4 linked regions of the Homo sapiens genome follow. The protein of the gene in region 2 interacts with the protein of the main gene of each other region in a pairwise test. Each region holds a gene or a part of one and is shown on either strand. Other genes may lie near its edges. The genes, in order: RINT1, C19orf25, INSYN1 and EPS8.

What was found.
Region 1: the proteins of C19orf25 (region 2) and RINT1 interact in binary tests that used the Homo sapiens proteins (3 or more experiments, as listed by UniProt).
Region 3: the proteins of C19orf25 (region 2) and INSYN1 interact in binary tests that used the Homo sapiens proteins (3 or more experiments, as listed by UniProt).
Region 4: the proteins of C19orf25 (region 2) and EPS8 interact in binary tests that used the Homo sapiens proteins (3 or more experiments, as listed by UniProt).

The regions. Positions count from the first base shown.
Region 1 is NC_000007.14:105,563,182-105,568,183, reverse strand, and holds the end of RINT1 (RAD50-interacting protein 1), read right to left. Parts: intron 4,452-5,002; coding exon 4,237-4,451; intron 3,061-4,236; exon of another isoform or gene 2,908-3,060; coding exon 2,727-2,907; exon of another isoform or gene 2,655-2,726; coding exon 2,536-2,654; intron 1,862-2,535; exon of another isoform or gene 1,066-1,861; coding exon 873-1,065; 3' UTR 731-872; coding exon of another isoform or gene 694-730; 3' UTR 507-693; downstream 1-506. Other genes in the region: EFCAB10 (EF-hand calcium-binding domain-containing protein 10), read left to right, coding at 694-717, 2,569-2,635. UniProt on the Homo sapiens protein: Involved in regulation of membrane traffic between the Golgi and the endoplasmic reticulum (ER); the function is proposed to depend on its association in the NRZ complex which is believed to play a role in SNARE assembly at the ER.
Region 2 is NC_000019.10:1,476,202-1,483,898, forward strand, and holds the start of C19orf25 (UPF0449 protein C19orf25), read right to left. Parts: upstream 3,015-7,697; 5' UTR 2,962-3,014; exon of another isoform or gene 2,939-2,961; intron 2,705-2,938; 5' UTR 2,703-2,704; coding exon 2,573-2,702; intron 1-2,572. Other genes in the region: PCSK4 (proprotein convertase subtilisin/kexin type 4), read right to left, coding at 5,558-6,006, 6,152-6,274, 6,695-6,819, 7,083-7,262, 7,449-7,566, 7,637-7,697.
Region 3 is NC_000015.10:73,750,346-73,758,329, reverse strand, and holds the start of INSYN1 (inhibitory synaptic factor 1), read left to right. Parts: upstream 1-4,978; 5' UTR 4,979-6,220; intron 6,221-6,467; exon of another isoform or gene 6,468-6,632; 5' UTR 6,633-7,199; coding exon 7,200-7,355; intron 7,356-7,984. UniProt on the Homo sapiens protein: Component of the protein machinery at the inhibitory synapses, probably acting as a scaffold. Inhibitory synapses dampen neuronal activity through postsynaptic hyperpolarization.
Region 4 is NC_000012.12:15,786,379-15,793,628, forward strand, and holds the start of EPS8 (epidermal growth factor receptor kinase substrate 8), read right to left. Parts: upstream 3,011-7,250; 5' UTR 2,783-3,010; exon of another isoform or gene 2,625-2,782; intron 1-2,624. UniProt on the Homo sapiens protein: Signaling adapter that controls various cellular protrusions by regulating actin cytoskeleton dynamics and architecture. Depending on its association with other signal transducers, can regulate different processes.

The sequences.
Region 1 (5,002 bases), on a different chromosome or scaffold from region 2:
CATTCCCTACCACATGGGAATGTTTGAGTCAGAGTGCCATGGCCTGAAATGTTTCATCCAGAAAGAAAGGGTTGCCCACTGTCACACAGAATGAAACTAGGAAGCATTTAAAATAGAAGGGCATTTGTGAGAAATGAAGAACAATCCTATCTTATTCACCATCTCACAATGTGTTTTGTTTTGTTCTTTAGAGACAGGGTCTTGTTCGCTTGCCCAGGCTGCTGTGCCGTGTCACAATCAGAGCTCACTGTAGTCTTGACCTCCTGGGCTCAAGCTAGCCTCCCACCTCAGCCTCCCAAGTAGCTAGAACTACAGGCATGCATCAGGGTCTTGACATGTTGGCCAGGATGTTTTCGCACTCCTGCCTCAAGCAATCCTCCTACCTCAGCCTCCCAAAGTGCTGGGATTACAGGCATGAGACACTGTGCCCTGCCAGTTTCCTCATGGAAATACAGTTAATTCCCAAACTAGATACAGGTGCCTCAATTACAAATATGCATTCAAAGGGAGTTTTAAAAAAATTTATTGGCTATGTTTGATTATCCACAACAGAATTTCCCTTAATTAGCACAGGAAATTGAAAGTTGGTTATAATTTAATATCTCTGCTCGTCTTCAACAGACATACTCAGCATTTATACTTGTAAATAGAATTGAGTTTTCATTGTTTCGTTTTCTGTTTTTGTTTCCTTAGGAACAAGAGGATGAAGGAAATATGGTCAGCATTTTAATAACACCATAAATCCAAGATAATAAGTAATTCTATAAAGTTTTCCAGTTTCATTAATTCAGAATTTCATCATATAACTTGAAATCCAATTGGCTTCCTCTTTCTTAGAAACAAAAACCAAAGAAACCTTTTTCTGAAAGACATTATTTTCCAGTATTAGGCCAATTTGTCCTCAAATTAAGTAGAATCTCAACATCTTGTTGAGCCAGTTTGTAAATTCCAACTTCATTTAATGCTGCTGTGGCAGGAAGCTGCCCTGAAGCTGACTGCAGTACATCTTTCAGCAGTAGTGCAGAACCGACGTTCAAATTCAAAACAATACAGGCTTCTTTTATACTGTTTAGGGAAAACAAAGGAGGGAAATGAGATCTCCATTATCTGCATCAATTATATTACAATTTTGAGAATCCTAAACAGCTTCTCTGCACTGCTGGTCCACATGTTCTCTATAAAAATATTTATGGATTTATTATTTGGTTCTTTTAACATGGTAAGACTACACAGGTGCAGAGTTGCTATTTCTTTAGATTACTATAAGGTAATACGATCCCTATTTCAATATGTATCCGTTATTTCCCTAAATACAATACTTAATATTAACACTATATTAAATATAGCTATAACTTTAGGTAGATTAGAACATGGGAAAAGACAAAAATAAGAGATAAATGAAAGCAGCAGAAAGAACATTAAAATAAATTTTAAAAACAGTCCTATGAAACGTGTAAACATAAGCTTTCATTTTATAAGTCTAAAAGGAATGCTTTATAACCTCACAAAACCCAAACATAATTTAAATTTTACTTTTTTTTTTTGAGACATGGTCTTGCTCTGTCACCTAGGCTGGAGTGAAACTGCACGATCATAGCTCACTACAGCCTCAGCCTCTCAAGTAGCTAGGACTACAGGTCCACACCCCCACACCTGGCTTTTTTTTGTTTGTTCATTTTAATACTTTCTGTAGAGATGGAGTCTTGCTATGTTGCCCAGGCTGGTCTCAAACAGCTGGCCTCAAGCAATTCTCCCACCTCTGCCTCCCAAAGTACTGGGATTACAGATGTGGGCTACTATGCCTGGCCTATAAATTTTAGATCAACAAATTCTGAAACTATAATTATATTTAGAACCAAAATTAATGTCAAATGTTTAAGGAAACAAATTTCTTTCAGGCCTGGCCTATTAGGTATTAAACATATTTGTAATTTTTTTTTTTTTTTGAGACAGTCTTGGCTCACTGCAAGCTCCGCCTCCCGGGTTCACATCATTCTCCTGCCTCAGCCTCCCAAGCAGGTGGGACTACAGGTGCCCGCCACCAGGCCTGGCTAATTTTTTTTTTTTTGGTATTTTTAGTAGAGATGGGGGTATCACTATGTTAGCCAGGATGGTCTCGATCTCCTGACTTTGTGATCTGCCCAACTCAGCCTCCCGAAGTGTTGGGATTACAGGCGTGAGCCACCACGCCCGGCCCTGTAATTTCTTATATTTAGTGAATAGGGCACAACTGTACTTGTTTTCATTTTCTATTTATTCCTCCAGTAACTAAGCAACTAGAAGCATTAAACCAAATACTAGAAAACAAAACCCAACAGGTAATTTATATCTAGTTCTGAAACTTTTTGAGGTCATGGGTCACATCTATCATCTTGGTTTCCCCATTGTGCTGTAAGCATACAGTAGATAGACAATGTTTTAAAATTTCAACTGATCTTATCCCACCCAAACATCTCCAGAACCCTAAAGTTAAAAGGAGTTAGCCTCCTGTAACAATTTGATACATTAATATTAATTGTTAAATGTTGAGCTTACTGTTTAAAATAATTTTCTGGTCTCTTGCAATAGTGAGAAAACAAAGGGAAAAGATTCCGAGTCATATCAAACTGCAGCTGGGCTGCTCCTCCTTCATTGAAGTGATTAGCAAGAATTATCTGAAACAAAGAATAATTCATATAACAGTTGTCTTTATTATCACAGCCCAAAAACAGTCTATTCTTACTTACTTCTTGGTAGATGTATACATCCAGCTTCTCTACAAGCATTTGCCAGAAAATTTTAAATAAGGAGAAACAAAGCTGCTGCTCCAACTGAAGTAAATGGTCTCGTAACGTCAGCAGCAACGGGCAAGCCGAACTGGACAGGGACATCACTGCCTGCTCTGACTGAGATGGCAAGGACAACCATCTGGAAAAAACACATTTTTACCAAAAAATTTTCATCAGTTTCTATTTTTCAAGTTTTTAAATCATTTTAAATTTGAGGAAGTGTTCTGTCCTAGGGCATTTTGGATAAGAAAAAATATACAGCCTAACATTAAAAGCTCTATCAGAAAATAAATGTACCTGTATTTATATTTTCACTCTCAAATACTCTTTAATATGGGGATATATCCAAAATATCCCCAAATTTTAATATGTGAATTACTGATATAAGGCAATTACAATTTAAAATGTCACTTAATTTTTGCATTTTATTTATGTAGTTTTTCTTTTTTTTTGAGACAGAGTCTCGCTCTGTTGGCCAGGCTAGAGCCACAGGGTTCAAGCAATTCTCGTGTCAGCCTCCCAAGTAGCTGGGATTACAGGTGCCCACCACCACGCCCAGCTAATCTTTGAATTTTTTAGTAGAGACAGGGTTTCGCCATGTTGGCCAGGCTAGTTTCGAATTGCTGCCCTCAAGTAATCTGCCCGCCTTGGCCTCCCAAAGTGCTGGGATTACAGGTGTGAGCCACTGCACCCAGCCTGATTTTAGCATTTTAATTAAGACATCAGCTAATATTATCCTCTAATTTTTAGTAAAAACAGGACTAATAAACGAATTTTAAGCACTCTGTGTGGCAGGGACTATGCTAGGACAAAAAGATACTGCTTGCTATCAAGGATGAAAGTAACACAGGTGTTCACAGTGAATGGTAGTGGGATAAACCACAACAAAAGTATGCAGAGTACCACAGGTGCACTTTACTTTGCAAAATGGGAGACAGGTTAGGCTATTCAACCCCAGATCACACACTATCCTATTGATATATTTACAAACAACTAAATTATAATCAGTTTATTCTGATTAAGAATGTCAGCCAGGTGTGGTGGCTCACACCTGTAATCCTAGCACTTTGGGAGGCCGAGGCAGGTGGCTTGCCTGAGGTCAGGAGTTGGAGATCAGCCTGCCCAAAATGTGAAACCACATCTCTACTAAAAATACAAAAATTAGCCTTGTGTGGTGGTGCATGCCTGTAGTCCTGGCTACTTGGGAGGCTGAGGTGGGAAGGTCACTTGAACCTCTAAGGCAGAGGTTGCAATGAGCCAAGATCGTGCAACTGCACTCCAGCCTGGGTGACAGAGTAGGACTGTCTCAAAAAAAATGTCCAAGAGAACATACTTTAGAAATATTTCCATCAACAATAAAGTACATAAGGCCAAACCGGGTTCTATCTAGACACCTTGAAAATCTGACCACATATTCTTTAACTTTTACCAAACTGGTGTTAAGAGCTGACTTACATAGAGGACATACCTTTCTTTTTTATACAATTTTGCAGCATCTTTAACTTCTCTAAAAACGTGGTCTACTTGACGGGTCAACATATCATGCTTTAAACGTTCTAAGAGGTTAATCATGTCATCAAAGACAGAGCTCTCCATAGAGGCTAGCTGTCCTAGCTGCAATTTACTCAGAGTATTATTCTCTGCAAACACCTCCAGTGCAGCCTGTTGAAGTTGTAGAAAGAACTGAAAGCAAAAACATGTTAACACATTAGCATACTTTTTTTTTAACAGTTTGAAATAGAATTCATATGTCATACAATTCACCCATTTAAAGTGTATAATTCGACCGGGCACGGTGGCTCATGCCTGTAATCCCAGCACTTTGGGAGGCTGAGGTGGGTGGATCACCTGAGGTCAGGAGTTCGAAACCATCCTGGCCAACATGGTGAAACTCCAACTCTACTAAAAATACAAAAATAAGCCGGGTGTGGTGGCATGTGCCTGTAATCCTAGCTTGAACCTGGAAGGTGGAAGTTGCAGTGAGCCGAGATCATGCCTCTGCACTCCAGCCTGGGCGACAAAGTGAGACTCCATCTCAAAACTAATAATAGTGTATAATTCAATGATTTTTTTATATATTCAGTTGTATATCCATCACAATTTTAGAACATTTTCATCACCAAGAAAAAAGCCGTTATCCTCTAATACCGTCTCCCCACTCCCTCAACTCATAGGCAACCACTAATTGACTTTCTGTCTCAATGGATTTGCCTGTTCTGGACATTTCATATAAA
Region 2 (7,697 bases):
GCTCTGGCCTGCCCCTCGGCAGTGTGGTCTCCCACGGACGAAGGCTCCACGTGCCGCACGGGTCTGGGCTGATCAAATCACCTCTGTCATCACCTGCTTTAGCAACAGGGTGGGAAAGGCCGGGCAGTGCCTGGATGAAGGCACAGGAGGCCCCCTACCTTCTGTGAGCGCCCCCCGTCCCCCGCACAGCGTGCCTCAGTTTCGCCACACTCAACGGCCATGGACCTGAGCCCATGAAGCTCAAACCACGGCCCCAGCACCCTCAGGTGACCGAACTGCATGCTGGGAATAAAACCAACTCATGCACCTTGACCAGTACCGGCCCACAGAACCTTCCAGATGATGCGCACACCTCCCACCGATGCTGGTCCACACCAGCCACCAGCCATGTGTGGCTCCTGGGCACTTGAAATATGTCTAAAGGGAAAACACAACTCAATTTTTCTCTTTTTTTCTTTTTCAGAGACAGGGTCTCACTCTGTCACTCAGGCTGGAGACTCCAACTCCTGGGCGCAAGCAACCCTCCTGCCTCAGCCTCCTGAGTAGCTAAGACCACAGGTGCATGCCACCACACCCAGCTAGTTTGTGTATTTTTGGTAGATATAGGTTTTGCTATGCTGCCAAGGCTGGTCTTGAACTCCTGGCCTCAAGTCATCCTCCTGCCTCAGCCTCCCAAAGTCCTGGGATTACAGGCATGAGCCACTGCACCTGGCCCCAGAATTTTCTAATATTACTTTTTAAAAATGTTCCCTTAGAAATTCACAGTTTCTATCATTCCACATGGCTCATTTTCTTTTTTCTTTTTTTTTTTTGTTTGAGATAGAGTCTTGCTCTGTCACCCAGGCTGGAGTACAGTGGCACGATCTCAGCTCACTGCAACCTCCGCCTCCTGGGTTCAAGCAATTCTCCTGCCTCAGCCTCCCAAGTAGCAGGGATTACAGGCATGCGCCACCATGCCCAGCTAATGTTTTTGTATTCTCAGTAGAGACGGGGTTTCACCATGTTGGCCAGGGTGGCCTTGAACTCCTGACCTCAAATGATCCGCCCACCTCAGCCACCCAAAGTGCTGGGATTACAGGTGTGAGCCACCGCACCTGGCCGATTCATCTTCATTTGTTTCCCGCCAGCCCCAGAACAGCCTGGGGCAGACATTCTTGTTTCTTTTGTTCACTTGTCCATTAGCAGTGCTCTAAGCGCAGAGCCCAGCACACAGGAAGTGCTCAAGAAAAGGATTGTTGAATGAATGAATGAGCCTCATCCAGAACACAAAATTCACCCAACTGCACTGCTGAATCCTTTGGTCTCTGACTAGCTTCCACCTCGTAAATCAGGAGTGGACAAGCTTTCCTGCCAAAGGCTGGAGTCTCTGCTCCCACTACTCAACTCTGCCCTTCTGGTGTGAGAGCAGCCACTAACCGTATGTGAATCATTTGGCTGTGTGCCGTAAACCTTTACTTACCAACACTGAAATCTGAATTTCATACCTCTTTCAGGTGTCAGAAATGTTCTTTTTCACCCACCCCCATTTAAAAATGTGAAGTCCATTCATAGCTCCCAGACCTTAAAAAAACAGCCAGGGGCAGGGTTTGGGGGGCCCTAGCTTACCACCTCTGTTTTACTTTATTTATTTCTATTTATTAATTATTATTATAATTATTGAAACAGAGTCTCACTGTGGTCCAGGCTGGAGTGCAGTTGCGTGATCTCAGCTCACTGCAACCTCCGACTCCCAGGTTCAAGTGATTCTCCTGCCTCAGTCTCCTGAGTGGCTGGGATTACAGGCCCATGCCACCACACCCGGCTAATTTTTGTATTTTTAGTAGAGACAAGGTTCCACCATGTTGGCCAGGCTGGTGTCCAACCTCTGACCTCAAGTGATCCACCCACCTCGGCCTCCCAAAGTGCTGGGATTATAGGCGTGAGCCACCGCACCGGCCACTTATTTATTTTTGAGACACAGTCTGGCTGTGTTGCCTAGGCTGTATCCTCCCACTTTAGCCTCCAAGAAGCTGGGGCTACAAGTGTCCACCACCACACCCAGTAATTTTTTTTTTTTTTTGAGACAGTCTCGCACTGTCACCTGGGCTGGAGTGCAGTGGTGCGATCTCGGCTCACTGCAAACTCTGCATCCCGGGTTCAAGCGATTCTCCTGCCTCAGCCTCCCGAGTAGCTGAGATTACAGGCGCCTGCCACTATGCCCAGCTAACTCTGTTTTGTTTTTGTTTTTGTTTTTGTTTTGTTTTTTCATTTTTAGCAGAGACGGGGTTTCACCATGTTGGCCAGGCTGGTCTCGAACTCCTGGGCTCAAGCGATCCTCCCGCCTCATCCTCCGAAAGTGCTGGGCTTACAGGCCTGAACCACAGCGCCCGGCCTCCACCCCTGTCAGAAGAACCCTCTGAAAATCGGTCCCACTCTACGGAGGAGTAGAGGGAGACTCGGAGAGGATACGGACCGTGCCCATGTTGCGGGGGTTCCCAGGGCGTGGGGTCAGGAGTTAGGGGTGTGCTTCTCTCCCGTCCCCTTGCTGCCGGGGTCTCAGGTCCGCTTTTCCCCGGGACCGGGCTCCCCCTACCTTCCGGGGCCAGGATGGTGAACACTGGATCCTCTGCCGGCGCACCCCGCACATCCTCCAGGATCTGCTCCACCGTGGGGGGCGCTGGGCGGGTGGGCAGCAGCACGCGCTTCTTTGCCTTGGAGCCCATCTCTGAAGGCGGGGAAGGGGGCGCTGACCGGGGCGTCCACCTCTCCGCCCTTGCCCGGGCTGCTCCTCCCGCCCAGCGAACTCGTACGCACCCGTCGCGGTCCCGCTCCCGGGGAAGCCCGCCCTGTCCCGCCCCTCTGAGCTCGCCCCAGGCCCTGACCCTCCCTCCGCCCAAAAACACGGTGGCCAAGGCTTCAGGGTCTGGCTCAACCTCTGCCTCAGTTTCCCCGCGGTCACCCCAGTCGCCGGCCTCTTCCCACCTGGGCGCGGGACCCGAAAGCCCAGCGTCGACGACGCAGCCACTTCCGATTCCGGTCGGAGCACCGCCCCGTCCCCGAACACGTGACACACACTTCCGGCCTCCTCTCCCGCCGGCCCGCCGCTCATCGCGGGGCTCCGCCCCGTCTTAAAGGGATAGTGCCCTTGAGACTCGGATCTCAGCCTCTCAGGCGAACCCGAACCTGGACGCGCTACGATGAGAGCGAGTTCGAGTCCAGGCTCCACTGGCTGGGTAGAAAAGCATCCGAGGCTCGTCTTTCTGAAAAGGGGAACACGGCACTAGGGGACACGCCACCCATGTGGCTGACGGGAGCACAAAATTGCTGTCCACCTAAGGGAGCCTGGTGGTGCATGAGCACTCGGCGGCCGGAACACAGCGGGGGCGGGGCGGTCGCGGCGCCTCCACTTCCGGCCAAGGCGGGTCCTCCCACCTCGGGGACGGTGCTGGAGGTCACCTTTTCCTCTCCGCTGATGCCTGGGAAGGCAGAAAGAGCAGAGGGCCCTTTTCCTCTCTCAGGGGCTTTATTGAGATGCAGTTTACATACCATAAAGTTCTCCTGTTTATTTCGTTTTGTTTTGTTTTTTTAGAGACAGAGTCTCACTGTGTCGCCCAGGCCGGAGTGCAGTGGCGTGATCTCAGCTCACTGCAACCTCCGCCTCCCGAGTTCAAGCAATTCTCCTGCCTCAGCCTCCCGAGTAGCTGGGACTACAGGCGCCCGCCACCACGTCCGTCAAAATTTTTTTTTGTATTTTAGTAGAGATGGGGCTTCACTGTGTTGCCCAGGCTGGTGTCAAACTCCTGAGCTCAGGCAATCCGCCCGCCTCAGCCTCCCAAAGTGCTGGGATTACGGGCGTGAGCCACCGCGCCCGGCCAAATTCGCCTGTTTAAACTGTAAATTCAGCCTGGGCGCGGTGGCTCATGCCTGTAATCCCAGCACTTTGGGAGGCCGAGGCGGGCAGATCACTTGAGGCCAGTTTGAGACCAGCCTGGCCAACATGGTGAGACCCCGTCTCTACTAAAAATACAAAAATTAGGCTGGGTGTGTTGGCTCACGCCTGTAATCCCAGCGCTTTGGGAGGCCGAGGTGGGTGGATCACGAGGTCAGGAGATCAAGACCATCCTGGCTAACATGGTGAAACCCTGTCTCTACTAAAAATACAAAAAGAAAAACAAAATTAACCAGGCATGGTGGCGGTTGCCTGTAGTCCCAGCTACTCAGGAGGCTGGGGCAGGAGAATGGCATGAACCCGAGAGGCAGAGCTTGCAGTGAGCCGAGATCGTGCCACTGCACTCCAGCCTGGGCGACAGAGCAAGACTCTGTCTCAAAAAAAAAAATATTGTTGAGAGAGAAGGAAGGAAGGAAGGGACAGAGAGAGGGAAAAGGAAAGAAAGAGAAAGAAAGGAAAGAAGGAAGGAGAAGAAAAAGGAAGGAAGGAGAGAGAGAAAGAAAAAAAAGAAAAAGGAAATAAAGAGAAGAAAGTAAAGAAGAAAAGGGAGAAAAGAAAGGAAAGGAAGGAAAGAGAAGGAAGAACGGAAGAAAGGAAGGCGAGAGAGAAAGAAAAAGAAAAGAAAGAGGAAGAAAGAAAAAGGAAAGAGAAAGAAGGAAAGAAAGAAAGAAAAGGAAAGGAAGGAAGGGGCCAGGTGCGGTGGCTCAAGCCTGTAATCCCAGCACTTTGGGAGGCCGAGGTGGGCGAATCACGAGGTCAGGAGATCGAGACCATCCTGGCCAACATGGTGAAACCCATCTCTACTAAAAAAGGAAGGAAAGAGAAGGAAGAAAGGAAGGAAAGAAGGAAGGAAGTAAAGAAAAGGAAGGAAGGGAGGGAGGGAGGAAAGGGCCAGGCACAGTGGCTCACGCCTGTAATCCCAGCACTTTGGGAGGCCAAGGAGGGAAGATTGCTTGAGGCCAGGGTTCAAGGCTGCAGTGAGCTACAATCGCACCACTGTACTCTAGCCTAGTCAACGTAGGGAGACCCTGTCTCAAAACAAACAAGAAAAAAAACAAAGGAATCACCGCAGGAGAGGATTCTGGGCCATGGTGAGCCATGTTCTGGGGCTGGACATTACTGCTGACCCCCGGCCATTCCCTGCTGTTCCCACTGCCTGGGGTCCCTGGGCCTGGGCGGACTCTTTCTCCGTGGCCGGCTGCATTCTCCATGGACTGATGTCCGGGGACCCCAAGCAGAAACCACCTGAGCCCTGGGGCCTCGGGCCCACCCTGCTCCAGAGGAGGCCACAGACTGAGCACCTTCTAAGCAACCTTTATTTGCAAACTCTGAGGTTGGACGCGGTGCCCGAGGCGGACAGTGTCACGTTTCTCTCCCTCCACTTTCCCCTGGCTTTTGGGGTGCTCCAGCCTCTCCCCCCAGCCCACTCCCGCCCAAACCCAAAATGCAGAGGAGACTTCTCTCTCTCTCTCTCCCGCCAGGCTTCGGGGTTCCACGGGGCCCATCCCTGGCAGGCCAGGCGTCGGGTGCTGGTGCTCGCTCCTCTGGGGCCAGCCTGGGGAGGCAGCATGGCAGCAGTGCCTGTCAGGGACCCAGGCGGGGGCAAGGTCGCTTTCTGAGCTGACAACTTCAGGTTCCAGCTGGCAGCCAGACCTGGGGTTTGGTGGGGGTGGCCCTGGCACGGGAGAGCCAGGCGTATAGTGGGAGGTCCATGGACATGCCGCAGAGGACGGGGCCTCCGAGGGTCACGGCCAGGAGGCTCAGCACCATGGCCGAGGCTGGGCAGCGGTGGTGGGGACAGGCGGCAGCTCTAAGCCGGGGGCGGCTGTCGGGGGTGGTGGGTCCCATGCAGGAGCCCTGCTGCTGGTCCAGCGTGGAGGATGGGGGACAGGAGGTGCAGTCCCTCGGGGAGCCGCCGCGGCAGGTGTAGCAGGAGGCATGGCAGCTGGAGCAGACCCTCAGCGCGGGCGCCGCCGTGTGCCCAGGCCCAGCGGTCACCAGCCTTGTGTGGTTGAAGAACCGCGGGGGGCAGTAGGCCAGGCAGAGCTGTCCCAGGATGTAGGCGGGGCCGTCACACGCTGCTCGGGGACACGCACGCAAAGGCCCGTCAGCTTGCCACCCGCAGCCTGTTACTCGCCACCCGCCCGCCTGGGGCCACATGCACGCTGCCCACGGTGGCCGCCACCGCCTCCCAGCAGTGGGCCCTGCCCCGCCGGCACTCACCCTGGCACAGCCCCTCTGTGTCCCGCTGCACACACGCGCTGCTGGTCACCTGGGGGCCTGTAGGCCGCGCTGTCATGTCCTCGGCCGTCCCATAGAGCAGCAGCGTGTAGCGGTACAACGTCCCTGGACAGGGGTCGCGGGTGGGCACAGGAGGAAAAGGAGGCTCTCGGCAGCCTGGTCCTGGTAGTCCCCGGGCTCCCTCCCCTTCAGCTCCCACGCGGGGCCCTGGACTGGTTCACATCTCTCAGGGAATTGCACACCTACTGTGCGCCTGTCACTGGACACCGACATCTCCCGGGTGACTGCACACCTACTGTGCGCCTGTCACTGGGCACCTACATCTCCCGTGTTACCGCACACCTACTGTGTGCCTGTCATTGCACACCATCTCCCGGGTGACTGCACGCCTACTGTGTGCATGTTCTCTTGGAGAAGGCCACTGGGAACCCCTTTTGCAGTGCGGTCACCAAGGCTAGCTCCAGAGCCCCTGGGGGGAGGTTGGAGAGCCAAGCCCCGCCCACCACAGCCCCGCCCCGCCCTCACCCGTGTTGAAATAGTAGCCCTTGTTCTCTAGGCCCAGGGTCCACACGCCCTGTGGGTTCTCATCCCAGAAGTGGGTGGACATGAAGACCCAGTTGTTGTAGCCTTCAGTGCTGACGTCCAAGGGTCTGGGACAGAAGGGTGGGTGGGGGTGGGGGTGTCAAGAGGGATGGCTTTGTGAAGCCGGCAGAGCCCCATGAAGTGTCTGACCGCACGCGCTGGTGGCCGCGTGTCCTCTGGGTGTGGGTGAGGGTGTGACTCGGGGTCCCACCAACTAGGCTGCCGTGTGACTCCTATGGGCCTGGCCCCTCCCCGTGAGGACACTCCGGGTAGATGGCAGCGTTTACCGACAGGGCATGAGGCCGCCCCCTCTCCTCTGCGGGCCGCTCACCGTATGGCCACGAGTGTGGAGCGCGTGCCCATGGGGCTGGTGAGCGAGATCTCCAGGTCTCCGCGCCGGCTGTAGGACAGCGTCAGCTGCGCCTGCACGTGCTCCAGCGAGCGGATGGAGTTGTGGAGGCCGGCGCAGGCCGATACGTTTTCCCTGATGTAGATCAGCGGCAGGATGGGGCTGAGGGGGTCGAGGGGTGAGGACCCTCCTGCGGCCTGCTGGGGGGTGGGTGGGCGGCCAGCAGGCGAGGTCGGGGCTCAGAGGTCACGGGGTCCAGCCCTCGTTTTACAGATGGGTAAACTGAGGCCTCAGGCCTGTCCCCCACACCCCCAGCGGGGATAGCGGAGGGGCGCGCAGGGGTCTCACGTGGGGCGGCTCTGGACCCGGACGGCGCACTTCCTCTGCGGCTGGGTGGGCAGCCAGGTGCGGGCGGTGTCCACCAGCAGCCCGGCGTCCAGCAGCCCGTATCCGTAGTGATGGCTCACTGCGCGGAAGGGCAGCAGTCACTCGCCCCGTGGGCCCCGGGTCCCCGCCCCCGCCCGGCCCCGCCGCACCTTGGCGCCCCACGCCGTTGGTCCTCCAGTCCTCGGCCTGCAGGTGCGCCGGCTTGGACGC
Region 3 (7,984 bases), on a different chromosome or scaffold from region 2:
CTGTGCTGAACATGATACATGAACTGTTTTATTTAGTCCTCAAGACAGCTACCAGGAAGGTATTTACAGAACGAGAAACTTAGGCTTGGGAAGATTAAATGAGTCACATGGTTAATGGAAAAGCTGGCATTGGTGCCCTATCATTCCAACTCTACTGCCTAAGTGTTAGGCAGTGCTTCCATTTCTCTCTGTAGACTCTCTCTACTGTCTCTATTATCTGTTCGAAGCCCAAACATGCCCACTGTCACCCCGGCACTGCTTCCCTGGTGTCAGGATCCATTGCTTCTGAGAATCTAGCTTGCAGACTGAATCCTCGTTCTCTCCTGAGCTGCATGCCAGTCTCAGTCCTGCGCTATTAGAGAGAGTAGACTGCAGACTAAATAAAAACAGTTACCATTTCTTACCATTCTTCCAACTCCTGCTCCCTCACCCCCACACCCCAGGCACTGTGCTTGGTGCTTTTTGCTCCTTATCTCATTCCATCCTCAAAGCAACCCTAGGCAGTCACTAGTACTTTGCCTATTTTATAGACAAAGGATCTCAAGTTCAGAGAGGGCAAGTAACTTGCCTGAGATCACACAGCTAGCAAATGACAAAGCTGGGGCCCAAATCCAAGTTGGCCTGTTGCAATAATCTCCCAAATGCCCCCACTTCCCCTCCATGGCCACAGGGCAGCAGGTCCCAACCCTCTGGCTTCAGGATTTGGAGACATCTTACCCCATCTGGGAACCCAATTACTCAGTCAATCATTTAGTCAGCTCATTTAGTATTTCCTGAGTGCATCTGTCAGGCTCCAGTTGGTTACACGAGACAGAGACCCCACCAAACGAACTGGAGCAATATGAGGAATTTATCAGCTCTTAGAGATGAGTAGGATGTTGTTGCAGCTCTCCAGACTGAAAGAAGAACTGCAGGAGTGAAGGCCATGAGAACAAAAACTGGGACTCAATGCTGCTAGCATGCTCTCTAAATTCCTCTCCTCTCTGCTGCCTTGCTCAGCTTCCTAGATTGAGTGGGAAAAATGGCTTGTCAGCAGGTTTGGACCATAACATCCAGTTTTGCACCCCACTAGGAAGAGGGGTTCTTCCTCCCAGCATCCACATATCAATCCCAGGGAAAGAATCTGATTGGTCCTGCTTAGGTTATGTGCCCACCCCTTGGACCAATCACTGTTGCTGGAGGATGGGGTTCCACGGTTGGTGCAGTCTGAGTCACATGCCTAGTTAGTGGCAGTGGGATAGGGATGGGTGGGAGTAGTGGGCACTTTAACTGACAACCCACTAGGATTATGTGATGACAGCAGGGAGTTTCCCCAAGAAAAGGAATGCTAGAACTGGATGGTGGAAAACAGGCAGACAGGTAAAAATCGCTGTCTACTGTCTACTGCAGTGGTCCATGTGAGAGATGGGCAGACACACACAAGCCCATCATGAGGAGTTCACAGACTCACATGGAAATAAGGCTTACAGACATGAAGCCATGAATAAGAGCTGATAGCAGCTACCATTTACAGAGCACCTACCAGGTGCCAGGCACTGGGCCAAGTACTTCCATGTGCATTATCTTATTCCATGTTCACAGTGACCCTGGAAAGTAGTCATTATTGTCCTGATTTTTCTGAATCAGAGAGACAGTGAAATACATCCCCCCCCCTTTTTTTTTTTACAAGAGACCCAATTCAAGAAAGAATTAAAATGTTTATAGGCTGCTATCCTTGCTCAGAGAGGTTAAGTGACTTGCTCAAGGTCACACAGCTAGCACATTAAATGAATGCCCTGGGAAGCATTTGGTTAAGGGCAAAAAAAAGTGCTTCCATTTCTCTCCGTAGACTAAAGCACTAGGGAAGGCTGCCTAGAGGGTGGAGGTTGGCGGTGAATAAGCAGAGATCTAAAGGATGGGACATCTAGGCAGGTGGCCAGGGAGGTTGGGTGGAAGAAAGGATGGATCAATCCCCAAACACTAAGGAAGGCAGGTCTGAGCACCACCCAGATACTATCTATTCCCTCTCGCCTGTGGCAGCTCTTTGGAGATTTACAATCAGAGACCCCTTCTCCTGAGTCTCCTCTTCTCTAGCCTGCTCTGACCAGCCCTACCATCCTTCATAGAACATATACACCAGTCACCTCCCCTATTCTACTTGGCTGTCCTCCTATGGACACACCCAATGAATTGAGGTGCTAGGCACAGTTTGATCCACACAAATGACAGAAGAAATGTTACCTCCCTTTTTCAAAACACTGTGCTTCTATTAATGAGACCCGAGATCAATTATGTATTAAGCAGTCACAGTCCACCCTGTCCAATCAAGCTCACTGTCTCCTAACCTTGCCAGTTCAAACACATCTCCCTCATCCTGGATGAGGGCGGATGATTCCCTGGACCTAAGACTAGAAACTCTTTTTTTTCAGGCTTAGCCCATTTTTGGTCTCGGCTGTTCCTTAGCATCACTGCTTCCACAAAAGTGATTGGTGAGACTGTGTGATTCCACTTATATGAGGCACCTAGAGTAGTCAGAGTCACAGAGACAGAAGATAGAATGGTGGTTGCCAGGGGCTGGCGGGGGGAGGGGTGATGGAAAGTCACTGTGAGATGGAATAAGATAATGCATGTGGAAGTACTTGGCCCAGTGCCTGGTGCCTGGTAGGTGCTCCACAGAGAGTGGCTGCTATCAGCTCTTAATCACAGAGTTTCAGTTTGGGATGATGAAAAGGTTCTGGAGATGGGTGGTGGTGATGGTTACACAACAATGTGAATGTACTTAGTGCCACTGAACTATGCACTTACGAATGGTTAAGATGGTAGATTTTAGGCCGGGCGCAGTGGCTCACGCCTGTAATCCCAGCACTTTGGGAGGCCGAGACAGGCGGGTCACGAGGTCAGGAGATGGAGACCATCCTGGCTAACACGGTGAAACCCCGTCTCTACTAAAAACACAAAAAAATTAGCCGGGCGTGGTGGTGGGTGCCTGTAGTCCCAGCTACTTGGGAGGCTGAGGCAGGAAAATGGCATGAACCTGGGAGGCGGAGCTTGCAGTAAGCCGAGATCGCGCCACTGCACTCCAGCCTGGGTGACAGAGCGAGACTCTGTCTCAAAAAAAAAAAAAAAAAAAAGGTAGATTTTATGTTACGCATATTTTGCTACAATTTTTTAAGTGATTGGTGGGCCCTCTGGATCCACCCCATCAGAAGAACATCTCCCCAACCCAGGGCAGCTGGATTCCCACCCTCACAGCTTCTGGTTCTCCAAAGGCAACCCCTGAGCTGAATCTCAAGGAAGTAGGAGTCAGTTCCCCCAGCAGCCCCCTGTGAATACATCTCTGAGATAACTCAGAGACCAAGGAACATCATTAGCACCCACAGTACCATCACTGTCTCTGGAATTCAAGTCCCCCATGGGCCAGCCTAAAACCACCACCTAGCCCCACCTCCCTTGACCCCTCCTCTGCCTCTAGTTCAAGATCTCTGCTTCCCCGCCACTTAAACTTTTGAAAATGTCATCTGTACTCACTCCTGTTCCTCACTGTTGGGCACATAGTCCTCGATGCCCAACAGTTTGGTTCCTGTCACCTTCTACCCTCCAAAACCAATTGCCCCTGCCATGTCACCCGTGGCCTCCTGAGTACCAAGACAAATAGACACTTTCTGTTCCTTCTCTCACAGCCACTCCCTGCCGCGTTCGACACTGATGAGCACTTGCTTCTCCCAAACTCCTCCTACTGGGCCTACATAACTCTCCACTTTCTGGTTCTTCTCCTATCTTTCTAATCACTCCTCCCTCTCACTCATGGACTCTTTTCTGAGGTTCCAGCCCAGAACTACTGCTTTTGTTACTTCTACGCAGCGTCCCTGTTCATCTCACCCCTCTAATGATGGTTCAAAAAAAAAAACAAACAAAATGTTACTCTCAAGCCCCAGCCTCTCTCATGAGCATAGATTCATAGACTCCACTGTCTTCTGGCCAACGGTGAAATAGCCTCCTAACTGCTCTATCTCGGTGGCACCTCCTCACACCCACTCACAATGCCCCAGAGGGGTTTCCTGAGAAGGCAAGCAGGCCCAGGTTCCTCCCAATATCAAAGCTCCCTCCGCCCCGGGATAAAATCTAAGCTCCTAACCATGGTCTCTGAGTCTCTCTGTGGTCTGCAGTCAAAATGGTATCTAAAAGGCCCCAGTTAACTTAAACTCCCCTCCTCCCATTTCTGCTTCTGAGCCTGTGCTCCCACCCTCCTCCCTGCCTGGAATGCTGATCCCCAACCCCCCACACTGACAGTCACTCCTACTCCTCCTTTGAGATTCAGCTCAGGGGTGGCCTACCTGGCAGAACCCGCCAGGCCCTGGCCTGAACTGCACCACCCAACCCACACTTCCCTACTCCCCTGTTAACATTGCTTCCAGAATTTGCCTCTGTTGTGACTCAGGAGTGTCCCCGAGCCGTGAGCTTCCTGAAATGCTCTGGTGGCCCCGGAGCCTAGCATGGAACCTGATGCACAGAAGGCCTCTAATACATGAGTCAATTGTTGAATAGCTGAAGGAAACGATGGGTGTCCAAGACAGCCTCCAACCCCCAGCCCTGCCGACCCAGAGCTTGGCACACAGTAGGTTCTCAGGAAAGGTTGGCAGTATTCTATTTTCTGAATGAATGTGATTTCAGGCAAGGTCAGGGGCTGGGTTATGTGGGTGGTAGAAGGGAGGGTCTGGATGCGGGAAACGTGGCCAAAAGGGAAGCTTGGGGGCAGTGCAGTAGGGGAAGGGGGCAATGGGGGTGTCTGGAGAGGTGGGAAAGGAACGAAGTCCCCAGAACGCTGTCCCTCCGCGCCCCAGGTCAGCCGGCGTGGGGTCCGGTCAGTCCGCCTCCAGCCCCGCCAGCGAGACCCTTCCCCCTCGCCCGGGTGGCGAGACCCCCCTGGCTCGCACGCTTGGCCCTCGGGGTTGGGAGGCGTGTGTGTCGCTTTAAAAGCTCCCTCCCGGCGCGGCGGGCCGGCCCCTTCCCTGACAGCGCCGAGGCAAGCGGAGCCAAGCGAGCCGGGCGGCCTTTAAGGGAGCCAGCGCCCGCCCGGGCGGCCAGTCCGGCGGGGGGCGGCGGGGCGGGCCGGGGGCGGCCGGGGCGCGGGCGGCGCGGCGCCGCGGCGCTTGGGGAGCGGGCCCAGGCCCCGGGAGCCCGGCGGGGCAGGGCAGGGCGAGGCGGTGAAGGGAGGCCCAGCCCCGACCCGGCGCCTGTTTGCCCCACCGGCGGCGACCCGGCGCCCGGGGGCTGCTGAGGCGGGGAGCCGAGAGCGAACGGACGGGAGGTAGCGGAGCCGAGCGGAGGCTGCGAGCCTAGTGCGCCCCGGCCCGGCCCGGCCCGCCGCTCGCCCCCTCCCCTCCCTTCCCCTCGCCGCGCCTCCTCCCCTCGCCTCTTCTCGCCTCCTCTCCTCTCCTCCGCCCGGCGCTGCTCCCGCCTGCGCCCGGGCCGCCGAACCCAGCCCGGCCGGGGCCCCCGGCTTCGCGCGCTCTCGGCTGGGCCCGGCGGGGACCGGGTCCCCGCGGCTGACATCGCCCCTCCTCGGGGACCCGGTGGATTCCGGACCTTTCGGAACGTGAACTGAGCCGTGGGAGCGGTCTCGCCCAGGGCCGACCGCGGGGCTGGGCTGAGCAGACCCTCGCGGCCGCTCCGGACGCCGCGGGTGCCGGGGCACGGACGTTCTGGGTCCGGGCTGAGCGCGTCCCGGGCGCCCGGCGGTGCCAGCTCACTCCGGGCGGGGTAGGGCAGGGCAGACCCCAGCGGAACACGGACCCGGCCGATCTGGACTGGACAGAGCGAATCCCGGACGGTGCAGAGCCCGGGGAATGCCGGGCGTGGGCTGAGGGGATCCCGGCGCCCTCCCAGCCCTCCGACTTTGGCTCACGCGCTGGGACCTGCCCGGCGTCTCCTCGGCCTCCCCGCGCCCCGGTCACCTGTGGCCTCGGAGCCCCAAATCTGCCGGACCCTCGCTCATTCCCGACCCCGAGCCTGGAGAGGCTTGAGAAAGATTTTTCCTGCCCCCTTCCCTGGAGCGCGGAGGCCCCGCCCCCTCCCACCGCCCAGATGTCTCCGGTCACGGCTCGGAGGACCTCCCTGAGGCCCGGGGCCGAAGGGTCCAGAGAGAGAAGCCCGCCCTAGGGAGCCTTGGGGGCCCCCCAACTCCGTCTTGGGGCTTGGCCCCCGACGCTGCTTGGAGGGAAGGCCGGTGCCCCCACCCTCGGTGAGTCCAGGAGTGGGGGTTCTGAGGGAAGGCGGGGCTGGGGGAGGGAGGGTCCGCTGGGAACGAGGGCACCCTGGGGGCGCTAGGAGGGAGGATGGGTGACTGGAGAGGCCCTCTGGTGAACCAGCCTGGGCAGGCCTGGCTGGGGGGAAGGTGGGGGGGGAGGGCGGGAGCTACGGCCAGGGTGCCCCGTAGCAGGCTGAGGACTTCTGCTTCTAAAGCAGGGGCTCCCTCCCTTTCCCTCTAGAGGAGGGGCTGTGCTGTAAACCGTCTGCCTCCACCACCCCTCCCCACAAAGAAAAAAAAATCCCCAGCGAGGAAGGGTGCAGGCTGGCGAGAGGAGGGAGGCAGCGGCATTGCCGGCTGGTGCTGCAGCCTGGGAGGGCTGACGCCAGGCTCGCTCTCTCCGCAGGGGGCTGCCCTCTTCCAATCCAGCTCCCTCCCCAGAGCTGCCCATATCCGGAGCCCCTTCCACATCTGGAAGACCCTGGCCACCATCCCTCTGCAGGTGTCAGTTGCATCCAGAGACCTCTGCCTTTGCAACTGCCTAGGAGTTGTGAGGGGATCCCTGCTGCCTTCCCCCATCCCAAGGGCATCTCTTACCCTTAGTCCCTGCAGAGTCATCCCCCTGCCTCTGTGTTCAAGCTCAGGCAGAGATCAGCTCTGCACACCCACAGGCACTTCAAGACCTGGAGGCCACTCCTGGGACCCAAGGTCCCTCCCCCTCCTCTCCTGTGTCCTCACCTTGACCCCCTCTGCTAGACTCTGTCTCCCTCTGGGTGTCCCACTCTCCACCCAGAGGCAGAGGAGGCTGGGTGGCAGGGGGCAGGGGCTGGTTGAGGGCCGCCCAGGGCCAGGGTGGGCTGGGGGGCCGTTAAAATGTGGAGCTCTGCCCAGCCGAGGGGGGCTCCGTGGAGGCAGACGCAGTGTGTGCCCAGCTGGGGGGAGTATGGGCAGGCCTGCGGCCACGTGGTAAACGATGAACATTCGGGGCGCCCCGGACCTCGGGCAGCCCAGTGACGACCCCAGCAGTGGTGGTGAGCGGGAGCGGATTCGACAGCGCATGAAGATGGTCATCGGGCAGCTTGAGGGCATCCTTCGCGAGCTCAAGGAGGTGGCCAAGGAGCTGAGGGAGGTAAGTGAGGGGTGAGGAGGGACCAGACAGACCCTAAGCCAACCTTCTTGGGTTTGGCACAAAAACGTACTCATAAATACGTTGGAGTGTGCAAAGCTGCGTGCACATGTGTCACTCTACTGGGGACCTTCTTTCTCCTTGCTCTCCTTTCCGCAAATCTGCTTTGCTAAAAATCTCATCAGACCCCAAGGCTGGAGGGGCCTCGGTGTTGTAGAGGTTACTTGAGCAGCATGTCAGTGGGCCTGGAGCTCTGGGTTAGCACAAAGGGCTGCCAAGATGGCCAGTAAGGACTGAATCCCGCCACAGCTTCTTAGTGGAAGACAACCTTCTGGGACCCAAGCTGACCCTTGAACCCACCATCTGTCTCCCAGACTCTGATCTGGTCACAAGGGACCCTGGGAGAGTGCAGATAGTTGTGCTGAGGTGGTTTCCACTGCTTGAGGCCCAGCTCAAAGCATATCCCTAGAAATCACACAGATACTGAGAACCCTTGATCTTGGAAAAATTTAAGCCAGCTATGTCCTCTTTGTCCGGGGGTAAGAATGGGTCTGGGGGTGCTGTAGTGGATAACAGAGTTCCTTGCATATTTTGGCAGGGGCAGGAGTCTTCCCTAAGGGGATGCGAGTCTC
Region 4 (7,250 bases), on a different chromosome or scaffold from region 2:
AGTCTAACAAACTGTCACAGCCAAGAGGAGCCTAGGGAGACATTACGAGGAAATACATTTAGTGGTGTCCTGGATGGTAGGGTCCTGGAACAGAAAAAGGACATTAAAAACTAAGGAAATCTAAATAAAGTATAAACTTTGTTAATACTAATGTACTGATACTGGTTCATTAATAGTAACAAATACCAATAATACAAGATGTTAATAAGAGGGGAAGCTGGTATGGGGGTATATAGACACCGTATTTGTAGCTTTCCTGTAAATCCAAAACTTCTGAGAAATAAGGTCTATTTTTTTAAATCCCATTTAGGAATACATCTAGAAAATACTGAAAAGGTTGTAGTGAAGCACTGAAGACCCTTAAACTTTCTTGCATATATTCAACTTAAAATGTTTGCAACTATTCCAATGCAGAATTTTTCTTACAAAAATATTTTCAATCACTAACAGCTGCAAACAATTTCATGTAGTATTAATAATTCCCAGGAGGGATTTACTATAGCCAGAATACTTTAATTAAAATTCCACTTTTTCCCCCGACATACCTCTACAGATGTCCAAAAGTTTGTACCTTATCATTAACTTATGTTGTTTTGTGATGATCCGTGTAACTACCAAGTATGTTTCACACAACTCAGGAAAGCTGAGTTGTATATAAATATTACATAAATCAGTGTTAAAATATTCATCCAATAGAACTTCAAGTATTTAAAGAGACAACTTTTAAAAACCTATCATTTCCTATTCTGGATACTATGTTTTCTTATACAAACCTTGGTTCAAGTGACCTGCTGCAGAATTAAAAGAGGTATGTAAAAGAAGGGAGTAGAGAGAAGAATAAAAAGCAGTAGGGTAAAGGGTGTGAAACAGAGTGTAAGAAAATAACTAGGATTTGGAATGTAATAAACACAAAGTAGAGAGTAGCAAGCCTATGCCATAGCATAGAAAAGAACTGGTATCTGAAAAGAATCAGTATTGATAAAACCTTGAAAGCAGGAAAAAGCTAGAAATAAAAACAAAATAAATCTTTAAGTTTGATCACAAACAAGCAAAATATTCAAAATTAGACATTAGGTTCCTGACAGGAAACAAAAGAAACATCACCCTATTAAGAGTGGGGCTACTAACAGTATAAGTTAAATTACACTTACTGGAAATTACTATATAATATTCAATGACATTGGGAAGTGAAAAAAATTACAAAGAGAATGCACCAAGTCTTGTAAACAGCGGTTATCTCAGAATAGTAGAATTAAAAGCAAATTATATTTTCCTTCTTTTTTTTCTGCTATAAAGTGAATGACTTGTGGTGCAATCTTACAAAGTCTCAATCTGTGTATTCTGCAATAAAGGCATTATATTATCACTATTGCATTTGTGATACATTCTACCTTACCCTTTATGTGACAATTCTATACTGTTTTAACTGTCAAATTGTAAGTAAAAGTGTGAATTCGTGACCAAAAATTTTCCACACCAGCAACTTAAGAACTACAGCAATATGTTTAGAAAACTGCGATCCCAAACAAAAAATCTATACTAGGTGAGACAGGATGACATTGACTTTAATTCCAATAGACTCACTACCACATGACGTCCATTACTAGTGCTCACTTTCCAGAACCCAAGGAGCTGTGGAAGAATGGAGTCCTTTCAATGAAAATAAACTAGAGGCAATACACAACACAGTTACTTTGAGGGGCTTTTTCAATATAAAGAAGATTGCCCGGAATCCTAACTCTCCTATTTCCCAAAAATGACAAAGCCAAAAAGTCACACTCTTCACACATCTGAAATCAAGTTTTACCTGAACTCATCCTAACATATTAGCTCTTTTACCTATTCCCCTTACTATCTAAGGCAAGAAACCTTGAAAAGAGAAGCAGTAACACATTTCACTGAAACATATTTTGTAAAGGAGGATTCTAATTCCTAATCCTTCACCGCTCTAGATGTCTGCGGATTTCAAATCCTAACCACGGCGTCCTGCCCCCCGCGAGATTCCAACAGTACTACGGGCCCTATGGGAGGAGGAGGATTTGAGAAACACTGCCGGAGAACGGTCGGTGCAAAGATTTTGCAAACAGGTAGTCCTAGGAAGGAAAGTAAGAGTGAGAACATCGGAGAGGGCAGGGAGTACATGGGTGGGGAAACCCCTTTCAAATGCATGAACTGACCACAACCGGAGAAAGGCCGTCTGTCTTCCCAAAAGTAAAATGGTGAGTAAAGTGGAGCAAGCTAAGAAAGTCAACAGCCATTAGGCATTGACAACGATTCCGAAACAATTAGCTATGTTAATTCGAGGGGGTAAACGGGGGTGGGACCCTGCCCTAAAGGGTCATTTTGAAAAGAACCCCTCCCCATTTGAGGCGGGTTGGCAGAGCAGCGCACAAATCCCAAGTCTAACGTAATAAGCCGAGATCGGGATACTCGGTCTGCAGTCGCCCCACGGACCAGATGAGCGCAGGTGTATCTGCGGAAGCTCAGGTTACCATGAATATCACTGGGCCACGGCGAACCCTCCCTGCCCAGCCTCCCGGAGCCCTGGGCGCGGGTCTGCACGGGCCCCACAGCTTGCCCGGACCCGGCGAGCGGACGCCTCCGGCCGCAGCGCCCTACCGCACCTGGCTGCCAACACCAGTTGAAAGCAGTCAAAGTGAAGGGAGGCGGACGCGGCTCCTGGCACCGCTCCGATTCCAGCACACAAAGGCGGATTTTTAAAATCGAGAAAGTCAAAGCCGCCGGACCCCGGGACCGGCGCCTTTCGCCAAGGGGCTCTTACCTCGGATCCGCCCTCGGGGCCACGGCTTTCCCCGGAGACGCCGCGAGCCCAGACGAGGTGGGAGGGGACCGGGAGAAAGCCCCCCAATCTGATTCGCGCCCAGCCAGTCGTCCGCGAGCCGCGGAGCCGCCTTCTGCACCCAGCTAAAGAGCAGCGATCTCCGAGGCGAGCACAGCGCCGGCCTCGCGCCGGGCGAGACCGCCTCGCTAGCTGCTGCCTGTGAAGTCTGGAGCCGCCCGCCCGCTCGCAGCCAGTGCCAACCGCGCGCCGCGCATGCCCAGTGCCCGCGCGAGGAACGAGCGAGCGGGCGGGCGGGCGAGTGCGCGCCCCGCAGCCAGGAGCGAAATCCGCTATCCGGGTCTTGCCGGCAGCCGAGCCGCAGAGTTCTGGTCGACTCCAGCGCTTGAGGCGAAGTGGCCGGTGAGGCCGGGTGGGCGGGAGAGGGACCGGAGGAAAGGAGACGGGGCGCTGCGCCAAGTTATCAAGGCCGCGATCAAAGTCGGACCAAGGCAGCGAGTCGACAGCAGGTTTCCAGAAGTGCCCTAACAGGACTGACTAGCAGCCAGGAGGCGCAGGAAGGGGCAAAGAGCGTGTGGAGAGCTTCGCCCCCGGCGAGGATGGACGCCCCGGGCGGAGGGAGCGCTCGGGTTGCAACACCCAGTCTGGCTGCACAGCTCGTAACCCCTGCCCTTTGGCGGCAAACAAGACGCATCTAATGACCAGCCAGCCTTCGTCTTCCTCCTCTGATCATCGGACCTATTTTCCCCCTTTTGTCGCTCTCCTCTTTTTTTGTCTCTCCAACCCATGCGGTAAACTGGTGGTGCCCAAGGCCCTCCATCGGGTCCCTGAGAGTCTCCCAACTGCCGGTCCTTAGCGCCAGCCTGCAAGCCCAGACCCGCCTCGCCAGGCTGCCTGTGAGCCTATTTTTCATGTAGCTCTTGCCAAAAGCCCTGATGTGGTTTGAAGTAGTGGAGGCTTCTTTCACTTTGTGCCTCTCGTACCTTAACCAACCCTCATAACCTCCTCTCTGAGTAGCTCATGGAGCCTCTAAAAGAGAAGTCCATGTTCTCATAGACATTGTGTTTTCTCACTCTTAAAACTCCTCATTGTCATAGCTACTCCCCCAATCCCCCCATGCTGTCCTAACTTCGAAGTCAGTTGACTTCCAGAAGTCCACGAAAGCCTATAAATTAAACTTGGTTAAAAGAGATTGGACTTGCTTGCTTTGTGAAGCAAATAAAAGCACAGTCAGGGAGAAACGACGTAACATGCCAAGGTGGACATTCAAACCATTCTAAAAGTTGGAATCGATATAACGGCTAAGTCCAGTCCCCTATTTTAAGTGGGAATACTCTCTCCAATATTTCCACCAGACCACTATCCACTTGAACATTTCCAATGTTGTAAATTTCTATTTTTATCATTACATATAACCATGATTATTTGTTGAATATTTACCTATGCCAGGAACTGAGCAACTTACACACATTATTCCTAGTCCTTAAAATGAGATGGGCCTTATTATACCTATTAAACACATTAGGAAAATGAAACCCAGAAGTTTCCTTCTTTTTGCCAAAGCCAATGCTGACGCCAGAATTAACAACCAGGTCTGCTTAACACTATAGCCTGTATCATTTATGAACATCAAATCAACTTCCCTGATACTACTGGTCTTGGTTCTGCCCCTAGGAACAACACAATATGAATCTCATTCTTTATAGACACTGCAAGCCTTGAAATAGTAGGGGCAACTATTAAGTAACCAACAGATCTAATACATTTCTTCAAAAATTCTCTTTTAAGTGTTTTTCAAATAGCAGTGAGCTGCCATAATCACACTATTCACCTTGCTTTGAATGTGTTTTGATTTTCATTCTCCTCTCTAAATTGTGCACTGAGAATACAATATTCAAATACAGTGGGCCAAGAACTGAGTTCCAGTTCTCCAGCTGCTGATCAGCCACCCCTTTGATGCAAGCACACACTACCTAGATTCAAACAGAACACCCAAGTCTATTTCACATCAACTAAATTAAACCGTATCTTCCACCTTTCATAGTCTATACTTCTATGTATTTAAATCTTGATTTTTGTTTTATTCTTATTAAATTTTATCGTGTTTGTTTTAGGACACAATTTCAGATAAATACTAGTGATCACTTTTAACATTTGTAAATTTAATAAGTATGCCTTGTTTGGCTCCATTTACGTCTAGTAAGAAACAGTAACACAGAACGGGCTTTAAAAAGGCCTGTGATATTATAAAATATATATTTGGTCTTCATCCCATTTCCAGACATATAGCTCCTAAAATCCTTGAAATCTCCAAAGTGATGAACATCTTTTTGTATTTGAATGAATTGGCTGATGGCTGGGGGCTCCAGCATAGCTTCAGGATGGGGACTGGTCATAGGAAGGACCAAGGCATGATTAGTGTGTTGGAACCTTCAGCCCCACCCTCTAACTTCCGGGGCTGGTTAAGCTGATCACCAATGGCCCATGACTTGATCAATCATGCCTACGCAATAAAGCCTCCACAAAAAAAAAAAAAAAAAGAATGGGTTACATGCACTTCCAGAGAGGGGAACATGAATAACTAAACGGAGATTCCTGGATGGCGGTGCTCCCAGAGAGGGCATAAATCACCCTATGCATCTCTTCAACTGTATCCTCTGTAATATCCTTTATAAGAAAATGGTAAACATGTTTCCCTGAGTTCTGTGAGCAGGTCTAGCAAAATAACCAAACTCAAGGAGGGAGTCACGGGAACCCTAATTTCTAGTTGTTCAGCCAGAAGCACAAGTAAAGCCACCTGGGGCTTTTTTGTTTGGCATCTGAAGTCAGGGTAGTCTTGTGGGACTGAGCCCTCAACCTGTAGGATCTGACATTATCTCCAGGTAGATAGTTTCAGAATTGAATTGAAGACACCCAGCTTGTGTCTGCTGCAGGATTGATTGGTTGATTGCTGGTAGGGGAAATTCTTACACACTTCTTGGTAACCAGAGCTTACAGAAGTCTTCTATGTTGATTGTTGAATAAGAGAACAGAAAAAAACACTTAGGTTTGGGGTTTCTTTTCCCCTGTATCTTCAGACAGCCCACTGCCAAAATAGATCTCCAAGGTAACAGTCATTTATGAACCAACACTTTTCAAGCACTTTAGTCCATGCACCCATACCATAACCAACATGGAGTTCATGAAGGTTTTCTAGATGCTTTGCTGAAATAAAGATTTACTGTTTCTAGCATCCCCAAATCTACTGGTCCAAGAAACTCTTTCAAAAAAAAAAAGGAAGCTAGTTAAATAAGATCTGTTTTCAGATTAACCCATTCTGGTATTAGTGATCCCACTAAAACCATTGTTAATAATCTGGTTTATACTTTTGTTAAGAATCTATGTCAAACTTACCTATTTAGAGTATCACTATACACAAGTTTTTCCTTTTTGAAAATCTCATTAGTATATGTTGGCATTTGGGATGAAAATGATGTAGGAATGATGTAGAATGGAGATAGATACCTGGAGTGAATGGGGCATTCAAAATATGGTGCAGGCCAGGCTCATTGGCTCACATCTGTAATCCCAGCACTTTAGGAGGCCGAGGCCAAACGATCACCAGAGGACAGGAGTTGGAGATTAGCCTGGGCAACATGGCGAAACCCCATCTCTACTGAAAATACAAATATTAGCAGGCTTGGCGGCACACGCCTGTAGTCCCAGCTACTTGGGAGGCTGAGGCATGAGAATCACTTGAACACAGGAGGCAGAGGTTGCAGTGAGCCAAGATCAGTTGACTGCACTCCAGCCTGGGTGACAGAGCAATACTCTGTCCCAAAATATAGGAGCAGAGTCTACAGCTGGGTATAAATGCTACATACAGAAAATGTGGAGAAATTATAATGACTGAATTCTATCTGGGGAGTAAGAGCTATCTCCACATTACCCAAGAGTCAGAATTCTTCAAACATCCCTGTTCACTCCCACTCCCCAATCTGATGTATGAATATAATTTAGGGACTGCTGTGTATACCTCTGTAGACTCACAGCCTTAAAGCCATATAACATAAAACATATCCATGAGTAAATCTAGAAAAGGTACACTGTAGCTTAGAATATTATTATTATGATGATCTAAATCTTCTAAGTGTAACTTGGTAGACAAGTAATTTCAGGTTGGCTATCACCCTTGTTATTATTTCACACTGTTGAAAGAACAAACCAAATTGCTTGGATTATTATATTTGTTCTCACTTTAGGAGGTGCTTGGGCTTGCTTCTTACTTTGTAACTGATGTTTATATTTCTTGTTAGTTATGTTTCTTTACACCCATTTGGATTAACAAACTCAATTTGCTTTAGCCTTCAAATGTCAAAATGCCCTAATTTCTTTTGTAATATGTAATTAGAAATGTATGGAAATTTTGAAGCATGATAGGAAGTATTCTTAACATGGAAATTTTTTCCAA